2 separate regions of the Homo sapiens genome follow, and region 1 is linked to region 2. The links come from fine-mapping of genetic effects on gene expression. Tissue or cell type: whole blood. Region 2 holds a variant in brackets; the other region holds the start of a gene. Each region is shown on its reference strand, or each on the opposite one.

The links.
Region 1: H3C4 starts here. The variant in region 2 is fine-mapped to the expression of H3C4 in whole blood (TOPMed, PIP above 0.99).

What each region holds. Positions count from the first base shown.
Region 1 is chr6:26,192,937-26,201,244 of GRCh38, forward strand. H3C4 (H3 clustered histone 4) reads right to left here and starts at 4,350. Exons shown (of 1, transcript NM_001376937.1): 1 at 3,848-4,350. The coding sequence starts at 4,314. The coding sequence ends at 3,904. H2AC7 (H2A clustered histone 7) reads right to left here and starts at 6,357. Exons shown (of 1, transcript NM_021065.3): 1 at 5,848-6,357. The coding sequence starts at 6,307. The coding sequence ends at 5,915. H2BC7 (H2B clustered histone 7) reads left to right here and starts at 6,580. Exons shown (of 1, transcript NM_003522.4): 1 at 6,580-7,052. The coding sequence starts at 6,623. The coding sequence ends at 7,003. It also overlaps the pseudogene H1-12P. RefSeq lists enhancers at 2,681-2,730, 3,477-4,078, 3,591-3,700, 4,079-4,679, 5,422-5,481 and 7 more.
Region 2 is chr11:108,166,275-108,174,613 of GRCh38, forward strand. It overlaps NPAT (nuclear protein, coactivator of histone transcription), which reads right to left. Exons shown (of 18, transcript NM_002519.3): 13 at 5,925-7,577; 14 at 3,654-3,769; 15 at 3,470-3,578. Among named protein-coding and RNA genes, the nearest start is that of ACAT1, 49 kb to the left of the region's middle. The variant G/T (reference allele first, on the strand shown) is at 3,483.

The sequences.
Region 1 (8,308 bases), not on the chromosome of region 2:
CGCCACTGCACTCCAGGCTGGGCAACGGAGTGAGAGTCCATCTCAAAAAGAGAAAAAAAAGAAAGACATCAATGTAAGAATTCAAAACAGAGAGAGATCTCATCTATTTTGAGAGATGGGGAATGAAAAATATAAAAATTTCAAAGTATGTCATTAGATTAGTTTGAAGTTTAAAACAGGGTGGGGGAGAGAGAAAAAAAGAAGAAAAAAACTGAAAAAAGATACTCTGCAAGGTAATATAATTAGACCAAGATCACATAGCTGCTAAGGGGCAAAACAAGACTGAAATACATGTCATCATGTTTGCAAATTCCATGCTTCTACTAAACCACACTGCCAGATTGTTGATTTAAGGCCATATAAAAGAGTTTGATTGCCATACTAAGATTATTCTTAAATCTAAAGCTATATGAATCCAGCTTTTTCTTCACGGCTTATAAGAATAGAGAAAACCAGTTAAGTGAAGAAAACATAAAGCTACAAGGAGATGGGGCATATAAATTTGAAGCTCATATGAAGAATATTTCACCCAGAGCAATGAAGAGAATGAATGACAGCACAAAGGGATGAGAGAAAGGAGCCACCCATAAGAAGGCTATAAAAATAGCCAGTCCAAAGAAGAGATAGAAGAGCAAGAATTACAACCATGAAAAGGCAAATAAACAAGGAAAGATGAATTTAGGAAGAATTCACCAAACTTAGTAACAGATTGGATTTGGCAACAAAGGAAAGGGAATAATTGAAGTGTCAGTTAACAAAGCAATAGTGTTGTTGTGAACAGAATATATAGGAATGTCACTTGAAAGGTTGCTTCCTAGATGTGGTTGGATATGTTGAGGGTGTGATATACGTAAACAATGAAGCCAATATCCAGCAATCTTAGACAGAAGCTACTTAGATAAGGATGGTCATACTGAGAGTCTGGTATAGAAGATGAACAAGCAGATATCCAGCAACCATCCAGAAATCCAACTTTGATACTTAGGCAAGAGGACAGGCCTGAAGGGAGAGACTTTAGTTACCTGTAAGAAACTAACTCACAAACCCATGAAGGCAAATAGGACAGTACCTCAGAGAATTCCTGCAGTTGGAAGGCTACAAGTCAGTTCTTCCTTTGTTGGTGCTCCAGGAAATCAAATATAAGTATAAAATATAAATATAAAATGGGTCAAAGCCATTTTAAGATTAGAAATACATGGGCTCCATAAAAAGTGAATACACACTCAAAGTAAATGTGATTCATATTTAGCTCATGTCTCATCTCAAACATTTGATTTTAATTTTTATTAACATTTATTAATTTGTTCATGTCCTAGTTTAATTTGCTACATGAAGTCATTTGTATTTTGATGAGATCAAAAAGTGTGAAACCCTCACCTTTTGGGCTTTACTCTGTCTGTTCCCAGCATTTATCTCCTTCATAGTCTTAGTAAAACAGAAATGTATATGCTCCCCAGATCAGCATACGTTCAAGACATTGAGGAGTGAAGAAAATCAGTTAATTCACTTTCTGCCATCACTCCATTTTCTTCTCATATCGAACATAAGCTGTACTTCATCACTATAAGCCTATATCCTTGTTTAAACAAGAAATGTAGTACTGAATATGAAACATGGCTGTTTTTTAAATTTCTCTCTCTAGGGAATTTTGTGTGTGTGTGGTGCTTGTGTGTATATTCTTTGATCCTGGTACTTGAATAGTTTACCAAAGTCTATTTTCCCCGTGTCACCAAGCATGACAGACCCCTGAACCCAAAGACTCATGAATATTTTAATAACAAATTTCCCCCAGTAAAAATTTAAAAAAAAAATTTTTTTTTGACCCTTAAATGAGTCAAACTCTGTCTCTTTTATGTCCTTTCGTGGATCTCTCCTGAGTTCAGCTATGCAAACAGTCCCAATATCAGGAGAATCAGTGATCATTGTATTTCCCATTTTCCCAAGGAAACGTTGAACATTTACTGGAACCCTCCCAAAGTAACTAAACGTCCAAATAGTTACAAGAAGCTATCATGAAATATTTTCAGCCCCAGCTAATTTTATCAGAAAGGGCTGTTGTTCTAAGTATCCGTACTGCTGTTCTTGTGGAGAAATTCAAAAAGAACCTGTTGTTTCTCTTCTCATATAAAACAGATTTCCTCGTTAAATCTCAATGAAAATCAAGTAGTTGTTCAATGTATGAGAAGCCAAAAATGTGTAGGCTATTATTAGAAGACAGCAAACAATTGAAGACACGAATGGAAGAATTTATATTTTAAATGAAAATCAAGAAGTTGTCCCTCTGAACTGTGAATCTCTGAAAGTTGGAACTTTTGATAAAGGCCGAGGCTGCCTTAAGTAAAAACTAGAGAAAGAAAATGTAAAGATCATAACACCGTAGCCGTTCCAGTTCATTGTAGAATAGAATTGGTGTGATTCCTCCTCAGGAAATTTAAACTATTTTGATTTTCTGAATTTCCGCAAACACAACTCAGAAACAGGGTTGAGACTAGGTTGCTGCCAAGCTGAAAGACTGAGCTGGGAACCAATCAGCGCGCAGCGTGTCTGTGTGTGACACACACGTAATCACAGACACACTCGCAGCCTGACTTTTTTTTTTTTTAACTGTTAGATATCCAAACCTACAATCATGTCCGAAACTGTACATGCCGTGACTCCTGGTCTATCTCCCAAGTCAAAGACTGAAGTAAAGAAAAAGGTTGCAAGTCCGAAGTTGCAGTGAAGTGCAAGATGTCCAGGCCCCTCCGGTATGTGAGTTCATCACTAATGACTTAGCCGTCTCCAAGAAGCGCAGCGGCCTTCTCTGTGGCCGCGCTCAAGTAGGTGTTGGCGGCTACGATATGAAGATCGGCCCTTGCCGGTCGCGGTGGCCTACGTTTGTAATCTCAGCATTTTGTGAGGCCAAGGCGGGAGAATCTCTTAAGCTAAGGAGTTGTTTTTGGTGGTTTTGTTTGTCCTTGGGGATTTTTTTTTTTTTTTTGAAGGAGTCTAGCTCTGCTGCCCAGGCTGGAGTGCAGTGGTGTGATCTCGGTTCACTGCAACTTCCGCCTCCCGGGTTCAAGCCCTTCTCCTGCCTCAGCTTTCCATGTAGCTGGGACTGCAGGCGTGTGCCACCACACCCGGCTAATTTTTGTATTCTCAGTAGAGACGAAGTTTCAATGTGTTGGGCAGGCTGGTCTCGAACTCTTGGCATCACGTGATCCGCCCGCCTTGGCATCCTAAAGTGCTGTGATTACAGGCCTGAGCCACCTCGCCTGGCCAAGCTAAGGAGTTTTGAGGCCAGCCTGGGTAACACAGTGAGACCTCGTCCCTAAAAATAAATACAAATTTTTAAAAATTATTTGAATAAAGTTGGGCCTTGAAAACAAACGAGGGCATCTTCGTGCTAAGGAGTGCAGCGCCTCAGGTTCATTCCCGCCAAACCAGGCAGTGTTAGGAAAATCAAGACCGAGGCCAGAAAAGCCGCTGCAGTCATGCCCAAGACAGCTGTCCTGGCAGCCGAGAGGCCCAAGAAAGCTTGGGGCGTCCTTATTCCGAAAAAGAGTACTAAGCGGACCCCAAAAGCTTTTGCTGGTGGAGGCTGCTGGAGAAGGTTGGTTGGTCAAAGGTGGCCAAGAAAGTTCCCAAGCCGGAGGCATCCAAGCCTAAGAAAGCGGCCCCCAAAACAAGGAGATATAAGAGTACCTTAAAGGCTGTTTTAAGAACTCCCCAATTATAATAAAGCTTTTTGCACCAATTCCGTGAGGGGAGGGGGAACGGATAGAGGCAAGAATGCTTACTTACCTTGAGTGAACAGAGGTTCCAGTTTACGGACAGCAACAGTAAACAGCAACTTTTATAGAAAAGGTGGTTGGCTCTGAAAAGAGCCTTTGGGTTTTGGTTAGCACACATTCACAAGACAATTTACGCCCTCTCCCCACGAATGCGGCGAGCAAGCTGGATGTCCTTGGGCATGATAGTCACTCGCTTGGCGTGAATGGCGCATAGGTTGGTGTCCTCAAACAGCCCCACCAGGTAGGCCTCGCAGGCCTCCTGCAGCGCCATCACCGCCGAGCTCTGAAAACGCAGATCAGTCTTGAAGTCCTGCGCGATCTCACGGACTAGACGCTGGAATGGCAGTTTGCGAATCAGCAGCTCGGTCGACTTCTGGTAGCGGCGGATCTCGCGCAGAGCCACCGTGCCGGGCCGGTAACGGTGGGGCTTCTTCACGCCGCCGGTGGCTGGAGCGCTCTTTCGAGCAGCCTTGGTGGCCAGCTGCTTGCGTGGCGCTTTCCCACCCGTGGACTTGCGAGCAGTCTGCTTGGTACGAGCCATTGCGAACTTCTAAACCCTGCTAAATGACGAAAAAACGAAAGTCTAGCCTTTCGTACCCGTATATATAAAGACACCCCTGTTCTGATTGGACAAGGCAGCCTTTCCCCTGCAGCTCGATTGGTGGAGACGCCCACTCCCTGACAGAACATCTCCTGCATGTAGACCAAATATTAAAACTTTCCTCCGTCCATCTTTAACTGCTGGTGTTTTCAACCCTTTCCCCTCTGTGCCATGTTTCTAGCTTTTATTTAAAACGTACTTTGGTTTTCCTTGGCAAAATTGTGTCTAGCTACTAGGATGACGTGTCTTAATTTTTTTTTAAATGTTGGCGCTGAAACTGGCTTTGATCAACGTTTTAAAAAGACGCGCGCTAGTTGTGATTGGCCAAGTGATTTCTTTTTACCCTCTTAAGTTTAGAAAGGTTAATTTCATATCTTGATTTGTCTATTTAAACTTGGAGATATTTTCAATAATTTGTTCCAAATGCACCATGACTATTAACTCATAAGTAACAATATGAAACCTGATGTTAAGCTACATGAACACATTTAATTTCACCACAATATGTCATCCTCATATGAAAGCACTCTTATCTTTTACAAGTTCAACTGGTATTTGTGTAATCTGCTGTAAAAAAAAAAAAAAAAAAAAGCCAAATTTATAAATGGCACAAAAAGACCAGTGTGCCCTTTTAGTCATGCTGAACACTGTGCTAAGAAGCTCCACCTAAGGGCCGTCTGGCTCCAGGGGATGTAGGTTTGTATTCCTATTGATAATTAATTAGGGTTAGCTCAGTAGAGTTGAAAGTGGCTTGCAAAAACAAACCCAAAAAATACTTACAAATTACAGGTTATTTCGTATCATTAAGATGCATACAAAAGACAATAAAACATTTGTTCTGGTTCTGTTGCTTTAAGTCACTAACTATATTTTTATGTAAATGTAAACACTGACAAACATTAACTTCTCTCCTGTATGTCTCAGGCCTTTTAACAGCTTTGCAATCCTAACGAGCCGCTGCATTGATCGATTTAAATTACATGTGACATAAAGTCTCTTTGCATTTTAATTAGTTTGCTTTTTTGGGTTTTTGTTTGTTTTGAGACAGTCTCGCTCTGTCGCCGAAACTGGAGTGCAGTGGCGCGATCTCGACTCACTGCAACCTCCGCCTCCGGGGTTCAACATTTTCTCCTGCCTCAACCTCTTAAATAGCTGAAATTACAGGCGCGCGCCACCACGCCCGACAAATTTTTTTATTTTTAGTAAAGACGGGGCTTCACACCATGTTGGTCAGGCTGTCCTGGAACTCCTGACCCTGTGATCCGCCCACCTTGGCCTTCCAAAGTCCTGGGATTACAGGCGTAAGGAACCGCGCCCCGCCAATTTGCTTATGTATTTTTATGGCATCTTTAAAATGGACGGTTAGTTTCACGATTCAGTGTTAAGAACACCCACTTATAAATGGAAAAATTATTAAAGAAAACTGCAAAATAGCTATTTACACAGAAAATGTGAGCCCTTTTAAGGAATACATGGGTGGCTCTGAAAAGAGCCTTTGTTAAGACTGCTTCCTTAAAAAGCCAATATAAGAGTTCTCGTTTTACTTGCCCTTGGCCTTGTGGTGACTCTCAGTCTTCTTGGGGAGCAGTACAGCCTGGATGTTGGGCAGAACACCGCCCTGAGCAATTGTGACTTTACCCAGCAACTTGTTTAGCTCCTCGTCGTTGCGGATGGCCAGCTGCAGGTGTCGGGGGATGATGCGGGTCTTCTTGTTGTCGCGGGCGGCGTTGCCCGCCAGCTCCAGGATCTCGGCGGTCAGGTACTCCAACACCGCCGCCAGATACACTGGCGCGCCGGCCCCGACTCGCTCGGAGTAGTTGCCCTTGCGGAGCAAGCGGTGTACGCGGCCCACAGGGAACTGGAGTCCGGCCCGCGAAGAGCGGGTCTTAGCCTTAGCTCGGGCCTTTCCGCCTTGCTTGCCGCGTCCGGACATTTTGAATTCTTAAAAACGATGTTAAGCAATGAAGACAAAAATGTAAAAGTGAATTTTGTTAGCAAGTGAGAAACTATTATACTTGGAGGTCGAATTGTAAATAACGCTATTTGATTGGCTAGAACAACCAACCAATTGCAAAGAAACGCTAGAATCACCTAATTTGCATACCACAGGGCACACAGAGACAATTCATCCAATCAATGTGTAAGCTTTTAAATGCCAGTTTACGATAGGAGCTCTACAAATATTACCAGCTGCAGAGTGAGGACACTTGCATTTCTCTTTAGGTTGTGGACGAAGTGTTTATTTATCATGCCTGAACCTGCTAAGTCCGCTCCTGCTCCAAAAAAGGGCTCCAAAAAGGCGGTGACCAAGGCGCAGAAGAAGGATGGTAAGAAGCGCAAGCGTAGCCGCAAGGAGAGCTATTCCGTGTACGTGTACAAGGTGCTAAAGCAGGTCCACCCCGACACCGGCATCTCATCCAAGGCCATGGGCATCATGAACTCCTTCGTCAACGATATCTTCGAGCGCATCGCTGGCGAGGCTTCCCGCCTGGCGCATTACAACAAGCGCTCCACCATCACCTCCAGGGAGATCCAGACGGCCGTACGCCTGCTGCTGCCCGGGGAGCTGGCTAAGCACGCCGTGTCAGAGGGCACCAAGGCCGTCACCAAGTACACCAGCTCTAAGTAATTCTAACGTCTTCATACCCAATCCCAAAGGCTCTTTTAAGAGCCACCCACTTTTTCAGCTATAGAGTTGTAATTACCTGCATATTTTCCGTGTTTACCACCAACAGGTTTGGTTTTATCCTCATTTGAGGGGGTTGCTGCTGTGTAGGTCTAGACCACAGTTCTTTTGACTGGTTGAAGGAAAATGCTATACTTAACCGTAGCATGTTTGTTTTACCCCAAGTGCTGGTTAGAAGGCTAGCCCATTGTGCTGATAAGCACATTTTTCTTATGTTGTGCTGTGATGTGTCCCTTGTCAAATTGGTTTCATAAGAAAAGAACTTTTGAAATATCTCTTTTGCTACTGACATAGTGTGAGGGAAAGGAATGTCTTCCTTAATTCCGGTTTAGTCATCGCAGCATTGGCGAATTTAGCTGGTTAAAATAATGTAATCAAATTCTTTAAAATATAAGGAAAGCAAGACAAGTAATGTGCATGAAAACTGAAAAAATGTGAACACCCGAGCCTGGATGCAGCACTAATAATCAACATTGTTCTTGGTTTAGTTAAAGAAAATTTGGCCACTGGCAAAATACCATTTGGGAGTAATGAGACACACCCCTAATCCTAAAATATTTTCTTGTCACTTCCTCAAAGTTGTTTTTGACTTTTTTTCCTTCAGGGTTGACTTCATATGTGTTCATTTTATTCTAATAAGCAAAAGTTGTAATTTTTAAGTGAAAAAATAATTTATGTCATTCTACTTACAAATACAATTTTTCTATTCTATATACTCATATATAAAGATACTGAAGTTTTACTGTATTCTTGGTAATTACAAGCCTTACTTAAGATCATAAACTGTTATGAATGGCATCCAGTGTAGAATACTTAAAATTTTTACAAAATGTTTTTGTATCTTAAAAATATTTAAAATATTATATATAAAAGATTCTTAGAATTTCAACCCAGTTAAGAAAAAAGGAATAGTATTCTATATTATTACTTTTTTTTTTTTTTTGAGGAGGAGTTTCGCTATTGTTGCTCAGAGTAGAGTGCAATGGCGCAATCTCGGCTCACAGCAACCTCTGGCTCCCGGGTTCAAGCGATTCTCCCGTCTCAGCCTCCCGAGTAGCTGGAACTACAGGCGCGCACCACCATGCCCGGCTATTTTTTGTATTTTTAGTAGAGACGGAGTTTCACCATGTTGGTCAGGCTGGTTTCGAACTCCTGACCTCAGGTGATCCACCATCCTCAGACTCCCAAAATGCTGGGATTACAGGCGTGAGCCACCACACCCGTCCCATAATTATTTTTCAACTTCCC
Region 2 (8,339 bases):
CCAGCTACAAGGGAGGCTGAGACAGAAGAATCGCTTGAACCCGGGAGGCGAAGGTAGCAGTGAGCTGAGATCATGCCACTGCATTCCAGTCTGAGTGACAGAGCAAGACTCCCATCTAAAAAAAAATAAAAAAATAAATAAATCCTTTATCCTAATGTCATAAAAATATTCTCTTATACATTCTTCTATCATTTAATTGTTTGACTTTTTACTTTTAGGTCTTTAATCATCTTGGACTTCATCTTTGTATGAGGAAGGGATCTACTTTCTTCTCTATATATTGTATATTTAATGATCAATACATTTCATATATTATACCATCCATCTTGCTCTGACTTCTGATGTTAACATTACCATGTACAAGGTCTCTTTCTAAACTATCTTGTTCCATTTGTCTTTTTGTTTTAATTACTGTGGCTCTGCAATATTTTACCATTTGGTAGAATGAGTCTGTCCTCTGCTCTTCTATCTTGGCTAGTCATGGACTTTTATTCTTTCTCATAGATTTTATAGTTTTTCCCATCTCCCAAAATATTCTACTGGGATTTTTAAGGAAAATTACATTGAATTTTTGATTCAACTTGGAATAATTGCAATCTTTACACTGTTAAATTTTCAAATCTATGAACATGGTTCTCTTCTATTTATACATCCTTTATGAAAGATTTCAAATATTCTCCATTTCTAACATTTTTGGTTAGGTTACTTCCTTTATACTTTATCATTTTTGTGGTCATTATAAACAGTATCTTATTTTGTATAACACTTAATAGGTGTTTATTGTTGGCACCTAAAACACAATTTTAATTAACCATACCTGGCAACTTTACTGAATTATTAGTTCTATTAATTTTTCTATTAACTCCCTGTGGCTTTATTGTGTAAAAATCACATCATTTTCCATAACAGTTTAATTCCCTCTCTTCAAATCTTTACACCTATCTCTTTTCTTTTCTGAGACAGGGTCTCACTGTTGCCCAGACTGGAATGCAGTGGCATGATCATGGCTTACTTACAGCCTCAACCTCCTGGACTTAAGCAATCCTTCTGCCTCACCCTCCCGAATAGTTGGGACTACTATCTGCCACCACAGCTGGCTACTTTTAAAAAATTTATTTTCTAGAGATGTGGTCTCACTATATTGCCCAGGCTGGTCTCAAACTCCTAGACTCAAACAATCCTCCTGCCTCAGCCTCCCAAGGTGCTGGGATTATGGGGATGAGCCACCATGCCCAGCTCCATTTTCTTACTGTATTGTCTGGAACCACATATGTATGGATGTATGGGACCTTGTTTATGGTGGAAGTATAATCAGATGTCAGTGGGGCAAAAAACTGATTACTTAATAATTAATTTACTGGTGTTGGAAACACTGGCTTATTACATACAGGGTGGGAATGAGTATCTTTGTGTTATTCACAGCTTTAAAGGGAACCCATGATGTTTACTATAGATAGCCTTTAAGAGCTTTTATCATAAATGGATGCTTAACCTCACCAATGTTTTTTTCTGGTATCAACTTTGTAAGGGATAAAAACAAGTGTCAGACTGTGAAGACATCTGTGATATGTTACTAATAAAAGTATAACACCTCAACAGACAGGAAATTTAATAGAGAAGTAGGAAAAGGATATGAATAAGCAATTCACAGAAGGGAAAATATTATTTATAGTTATAAGAGAAGATTCCAAACTTTATTAGTAATCAGAATAAAGTAAAAGAATGATATGAGATACTACCACTTTAAATCCATCATAGTGGCAAAAGTTAAAATATCACATGGTATCAAATATTGGTAGTGTTGTGAGGGAAGCAGGGAAAATAATGGTAGAAGTATAAATTTTCTTCTCTATGACTCAGAAATTCTGGGTCATAGAGAAGATATACTTCTTCTCTATTATACCCAGTATACCCAAAGATTTCTGGGAATAAGCCCCCAAAGAAACTCTCATATGGGTTCACACAGAGGCATTTACAAAGATGTTCCTCATATCATTGCATGTCACATCGAAAACATCTGAAAAGTCCACTGATAGGACATATATAAAATACATTTATGCAAGTGATAGATATCAAATGGCCATTAAAAGGAATGAACTAGTTATAAGAAAGAACATAAAAATAATATAGAGTAGCTATAACAGGACATAAGTCTAAGAGGGTGCCTCAATAAGTCAAAATGCAACTTAAGCCTACATCAATAGATGTATACTGTTTAGTTTAAGGAAAGGCTGATTTGATAGCAGTTAGTTGAGTTCTCTGTATAATGAGTGCATTTAAGATACTCAGACTACTGAGAAGAAATACAATGTAATGTGTTAAGTGCTGTAGCATAGGTATCACTAAGAATTAAAGAAAAAAATAAAACCGGAATATCCACCTCAGCCACCGCTGGTTAAAAATGCTTCCTAGGAACATTTAAGTTAATTTCGAAGGATAAATAAGAACCAGATTGAGGGTAAGAGTTGGGTAAGAAGGGGGAATTCTAGGTAGAAGAGATAGCATTGGTAAAAGGTACAGGGACAAGAAAGATCACCAAGTATAAGGTGAGCAGCAACTATAGTTTGTACAAAGGGTCCATGCTGGGAAGTGGTAAGAGATGAGATGGAGAGGTCGAGAGTGACTAGATGACAAATGTATGCACATATGTCACCCTGAGAAATTTCAATTTTATCCTTTGGGCAAAGGGGAGTTGCTGAAAGTTTTTAGGCAGGAAAGCAACATATTCAGATTTGTATTTTAGGGAAAAAAAGTCACTCAGCCAGCAGATATGAGGTGAACTGAAACAACAGAGACTAAAAGAAGGGAGACTACATGACACTATTGATACAACTTAGATGAAAAATGACAAATACTTGAACTAAGAAGGAGAGGAAAATGTGTTTTAAGAGTGACTACCAGGTTTTTCACAAGTAAACAGATGGTTGGGACAATGGCTAAAACAGGGAACACAGGAAGGTAATTTGCAAACTTTAAAGCCTTGCTTCAAGTGTGGTCCAGTACCAGCAGCACTGGCATTGCTTAGAAGCTGTTAGAAATGAGGAATTTCAGGTGCTGTACCAGACCTATCAATTCAGTACCTGCATTTAACAAAATCCCCAAATAGTTCATATACACACTAAACTACAAGAAGAACTGCTCTAAAGTCTCATACAATTATACGAGGCATTCATTAAACACTTGAAAGCTGTTGGGAAAAATAGGGACTATACTTAATTTAGGGAAGCTGCAAAGAACAAACCAAGGACTACTGGGCAAAAGCTAACAGATTCAACAAAGGAGACAATTTTCTCAGAACCAAAGCTGTTCAGTAACAGTTGGCTGCATTATGACATCTGTTACTAGCAAATGTAGGGTGATCACTTGTTTTAAAATGGTTTAGGTATTCAGAAAGAAAACATTTAGGTGTTGCTGCAAACAAATGAACATACAAACATAAAGTTAACATTAATGAAATTAAAAATGGTACCTATACAAGGCTT[G/T]TTTCTTAGTCCCTGAGCCTTCTGAGATTTTGGAGGGACGGGGAATTGAGGGATACTTCTATTGCATACAGGTGCTGTCAAAGGCATATGAAGAACCTGGAAGAGAAAAAGCCATTAATTACACTAAGCTTGAAAAGCATCACCACACCATTTTCAGTTCATAAATCTTACCTGCCGAGGAGGAGTAGAAAAGTTATTTCCATTCTGTCCAACCACAGATACTGGGATCATCCCTACCATTCCTTGGAGTACAGGCTGGACTGGAGAGGCAATTATTATGGCAGATCCTAAAAAAACAATTCTTGTTAAAAAAAGATTTTCTCTGAAATGTTTTGGCACAAAACAAACAAATGTTTGGCACAAATTAATTACTGCTTTGAAATAAATTCTATGAACAATCCCTCTTCCTTACGATCCACTCTCCAAAAACAAAACAAAACAAAACAAAAAAAACGAAACTGAAACAGTTTTAGGAAAAACAGCAAGGCTAACAAATTAAGAAAAAGTCAATCCAAATATTAAGGTGGTCTTAATGTTATTCAGTCAGTGAACCATGCTGATCAAGCATAAGACTCTACAGCCAAGACATCATATTACAATCATATCTGGATTCCTCTAGAAATAATGAAACTAGTTAGAAAATGAGTGGTGAATGTTTCAAGTCTGAACCTTACACCAGAAAATTACAACCCCAACTGAATATTTATACCCAGGACTACACTTGTAACCCCAACCTATTACATATCTCAATGGTATTGATCAAAAGGGGGTAAGGTAAGCACGTAACTGGTCAAAACTATGGAGGGAAAATTACAATGTCTACATGGTCCTCAGAAGTCAACAACATAGTTTGTGGCTACTGTAATTTAGTCCTGTCCATAAACAAACTTTTGCCTAATACACTACTGTCAGGTTGATCCCCTCATTTTCATGCAACCTACTACGGTCTCTCTGTCTATGCTGGTGCTGCTTCTCTTTATAACTTACAGATTTTATAAGTTATAAAAACTTCCTTGCTTTAACTCCAAATCCTACCTTCATTCTTTAAGCTTTAGCTCAAGCCCCACATTCTCTATTAATTCTGACCTCTCCTTTATGTAATTTGTAACAGCACGTAAAACAGACCCATTAGGTTTAATACTAATTGTTGATATTTAATGAAATTTTATTGTATGTCTATAATGTAACAAAAAGGGAAAAGAGGGAAGCTTGGGAACCAACACATAAGGAAATGTAAATAAATGTGCCATGAGCACTATCTCTGAGGAACATACAATAAAAAATTATCAATATGATAGGCATATCAATCACTAACTACATATAACACAGCACGCAATAAATGCCACAAGAGCCCCTATGAAAAAAGGATTTTTTTTTTTTTTTTTTTTTTTGGAGACAGAGTCTTACTCTGTCACCCAGGCTGAAGTGCAGTGGTGCGATCTTGGCTCACTGCAACCTCTGCCTCCCAGCTTTAGATTCTTCTGTCTCAGCCTCCCAAGCAGCTGGGATTACAGGTGCCCACCACCATGCCAATTTTTGTATTTTTAGTAGATACGGGGTTTCACCATGTTGGCCAGGCTGGTCTTGAACTCCTGACCTCGGGTGATCTGCCCGCCTCGGCCTCCCAAAGTGCTGGGATTACAGTCATGAGCCACTGAGCCCAGCCATAAACAAAGGATTTTAAAGACAGAGATCAATTAGAAAGGATTTTATAAAGGAAGAAATTCAAGTTTTTTTTTTTTTTTGAGACAGAGTCTCGCTCTTGTTGCCCAGGCTGAAGTGCAATGGCATGATCTTGGCTCACTGAAACCTCTGTCTCCTGGGTTCACGAGATTCTCCTGCCTCAGCCTCCCAAGTAGCTGTAATTACAGGCACCTGCCACCATGCCTGGCTCATTTTTTTGTATTTTTAGTAGAAATGAGGTTTCACCATGTTCTCGAGGCTGGTCTCAAACTCCTGACCTCAGGTGATCGATCGGCCCACCTCGGCCTCCCAAAGTGCTGGGATTACAGGCGTGAGCCACCATAACCGGCTGAAATTCAAGTTTTTCTTGAAAATTTCTCCAAAAAGATGATGAATTCCCTGAAGACCATGACTATAAGAGCTATTTTTAAAAACTCCCCCACAACATTGGGTTTTATACAACTATGTGATGAATTAGTCTGTCTTTTCTGTTTATTGTAACTTACTAGCACATAGATTGAGAAGTATTTGTGAAAAGAAAAAAGAAAAACCACTAAAGCCCATAGCTTACTAGCAGATTAAGAAAAATAAAAAAGGTTTGAATTAGCTAGCATAAAGAAGCAGCGTAATCACAAATTTCAGAATCTTTTCTCATACCATCTACTCATTAGTTATTACTTCGCAGTCAATAACATCACATACAAAAGAAATTAGATCCCAACCCAGAGAAACAAATTTCAATTATGTTATTAAAGTTACCTTGTGAAAAGTTTGGTGACACAGCTTGGTTGACAGCAAATACACTGTTTGACCTTGGTGGTGTCTGTAACTGAGGTGGTAGAGGTTGAGCAGTCATAGGTGCAGAATTTCCAGGCAACACCACTACATTAGACTGACTTACAGATGTTCCTAACGCTGTTGGATCAGTCACACAGGTAGCTATCAGAATGTTATTTGAATTGCCAAAAGCTGTGCTTGTGGCTGGCATCAACTGTATATATCCTCCATCCTTGGAAACACATGGTGTAACATTAGCTGAAAAAGCAATGCCATCTTCATTCTGAGTATTGTTTACTGCAGAGTCTTCAGATTTGAATGTTAAAAGACTCTGTTCCATTGAGGCTGAATCCCCTACTTCGGCATATACAACAGCACCTACAGTTTCTTCTGAAGATAGGCATTTAACTAGTTCTGCATTTTTAGTAGGTGATTTAGTAGGAGAAGACAAGATTATAGTTGGCAGGTTTTCTCCATTAATACTAGAAACAGCACTGGTAAGTTCAGTATCTGAGGAAACAAATGGATCATCACTAATGATAACTTTGAGAGAGACGATATTTGATGCATCTATCTCTGCTGAGTTGTTGCTAGAAGGTTTATCATCAGTATTTTGGGACTCAGGGTGAGAATCTCCCACTGAAGAACACACAGATTCTGGAGGAAGAGAGTGACTGTTTTCTACAGGAGTGCCTTCTGGAGGCGTCAGTGCAACTTTCTCACAGTTAGCATTTCCACCTAAAGAGAGAAAAATAGTATTCTCTTCTTTTACAGAAGATGAAGGCTCCTGTGAATTCTCAGACTTGGATGCCTGAGCTTCATTTTCTGTATGATTTAACTCAACAGATGCTGAATCATTAGATGGTTGTTTAGTAGAAGACAGCGAATCTCCAAGATGAATTTCTACTTGTCCAGATACATTTAAATGTGAACTTTCAACAGACACAGGTAGTATTTCACTTTGAAGACAAGAATTATCTTGGCAATTTGATAGCTGTGACATAACTGGTTCTAACACATTAATTTCTATTTTACTCTTGTGAACTTCACTAGAATCTGATGACTTGGAACCATGAAAATTAATTTTAAGTTTTACTGTATCATTAGAATTTTCACAAAATTGACTTTTTTTAGATGGCTTTCCAGTTAATGAAGTATCTTGGGATAAAAGTTGAGAACTCTTCCCAGAGAGAATTAAGTTTTCATTGTTAGCTTCACAACCAAGTGAAACAAATGAAGTTATTGGTATATCAGGCTGATCAGGCTGTAACTGAGATTCACTCGGTACATTTGAAGACAAAGAGTTCTTTTCAATCCCTATAGCCATTTCAGTTTCAGTGGACATCTGATTGGTGTATAATTCAGCACAATGTGGATTACATTCAGCATTAGAATTCCCTCTTTGGTTAAAGTCATTCAAATTAGGCACGGACTCAAAGGTAATGTCAATGTCACACTTCTGTTCAGTGGGTACAGCTGTTTTAAAGGCCTTTTTCTGTATGCTGGTACTTATTTGGGAAAAATTTTCCTGGTCTTCTTGTCTAAGCACATCATGGTTGTTGCTATTCTTCAAAGCATTTAATGGGTCATCATTCTGATAGGATGTACAAAAAGCGGGCTGACCAGACTGACCATCTGCAAAGTATCAGGCAGGTAGACAGATATGGTAAATATGTTCAGCTTCTGAGGTAGTCATTTTTGCCATAAAACTTATTTTGCCAAGAAAATAACTCATCTTTGCATACCAGTAAGTGGAAGTCTGATACGCTGTGTTTCCCATTTACTGAGTATCAAAAAATTTACAGGTACTTTCTAGTTACTGATGACTTTTTACACAAGTGTCAATTTGTTTTCCAAGCTTGGAAGACAGATGATACAAAGAAGGAAAAAGTAAAGAGGTTTAATATTTCAATAGGTAAAAAACATACTGGCTCCAAAAATGAAGTTTATTTTGAAACACTAACTTTTCAACTTCTAACATTTCTTCTGACTTTAATTTATCTACTGTCTCGGCCTCCCAAAGTGCTGGGATCACAGGCATGAGCCACCACACCCAACTTATCTGACATATTCTTAAAGGTGAGATGGGGCCAAGTACATTTTGCATGATTGACACTTGATCTCATTGTGTACTGTTTAACATTAAACACATATTTACTGAAGACCAACCATACTTGGTTACTGGGATACAAAGATGAATGATCCAATCTCTAATCTTGGAGAGGTTAGTCAAGGAACCAACTATAGAACAGAAAGTCATAAGAAAGCATGGTAAAAACTGTAACAGCATAGGAACAAAAGGTACCATGAGAAAAAATTATAAAGGAGGCACTGTATGAGAAGATCTTAAAAAAAAAAAAAAAAAAAGAGTATGATATGAGTAAGGAAAGAGTATTT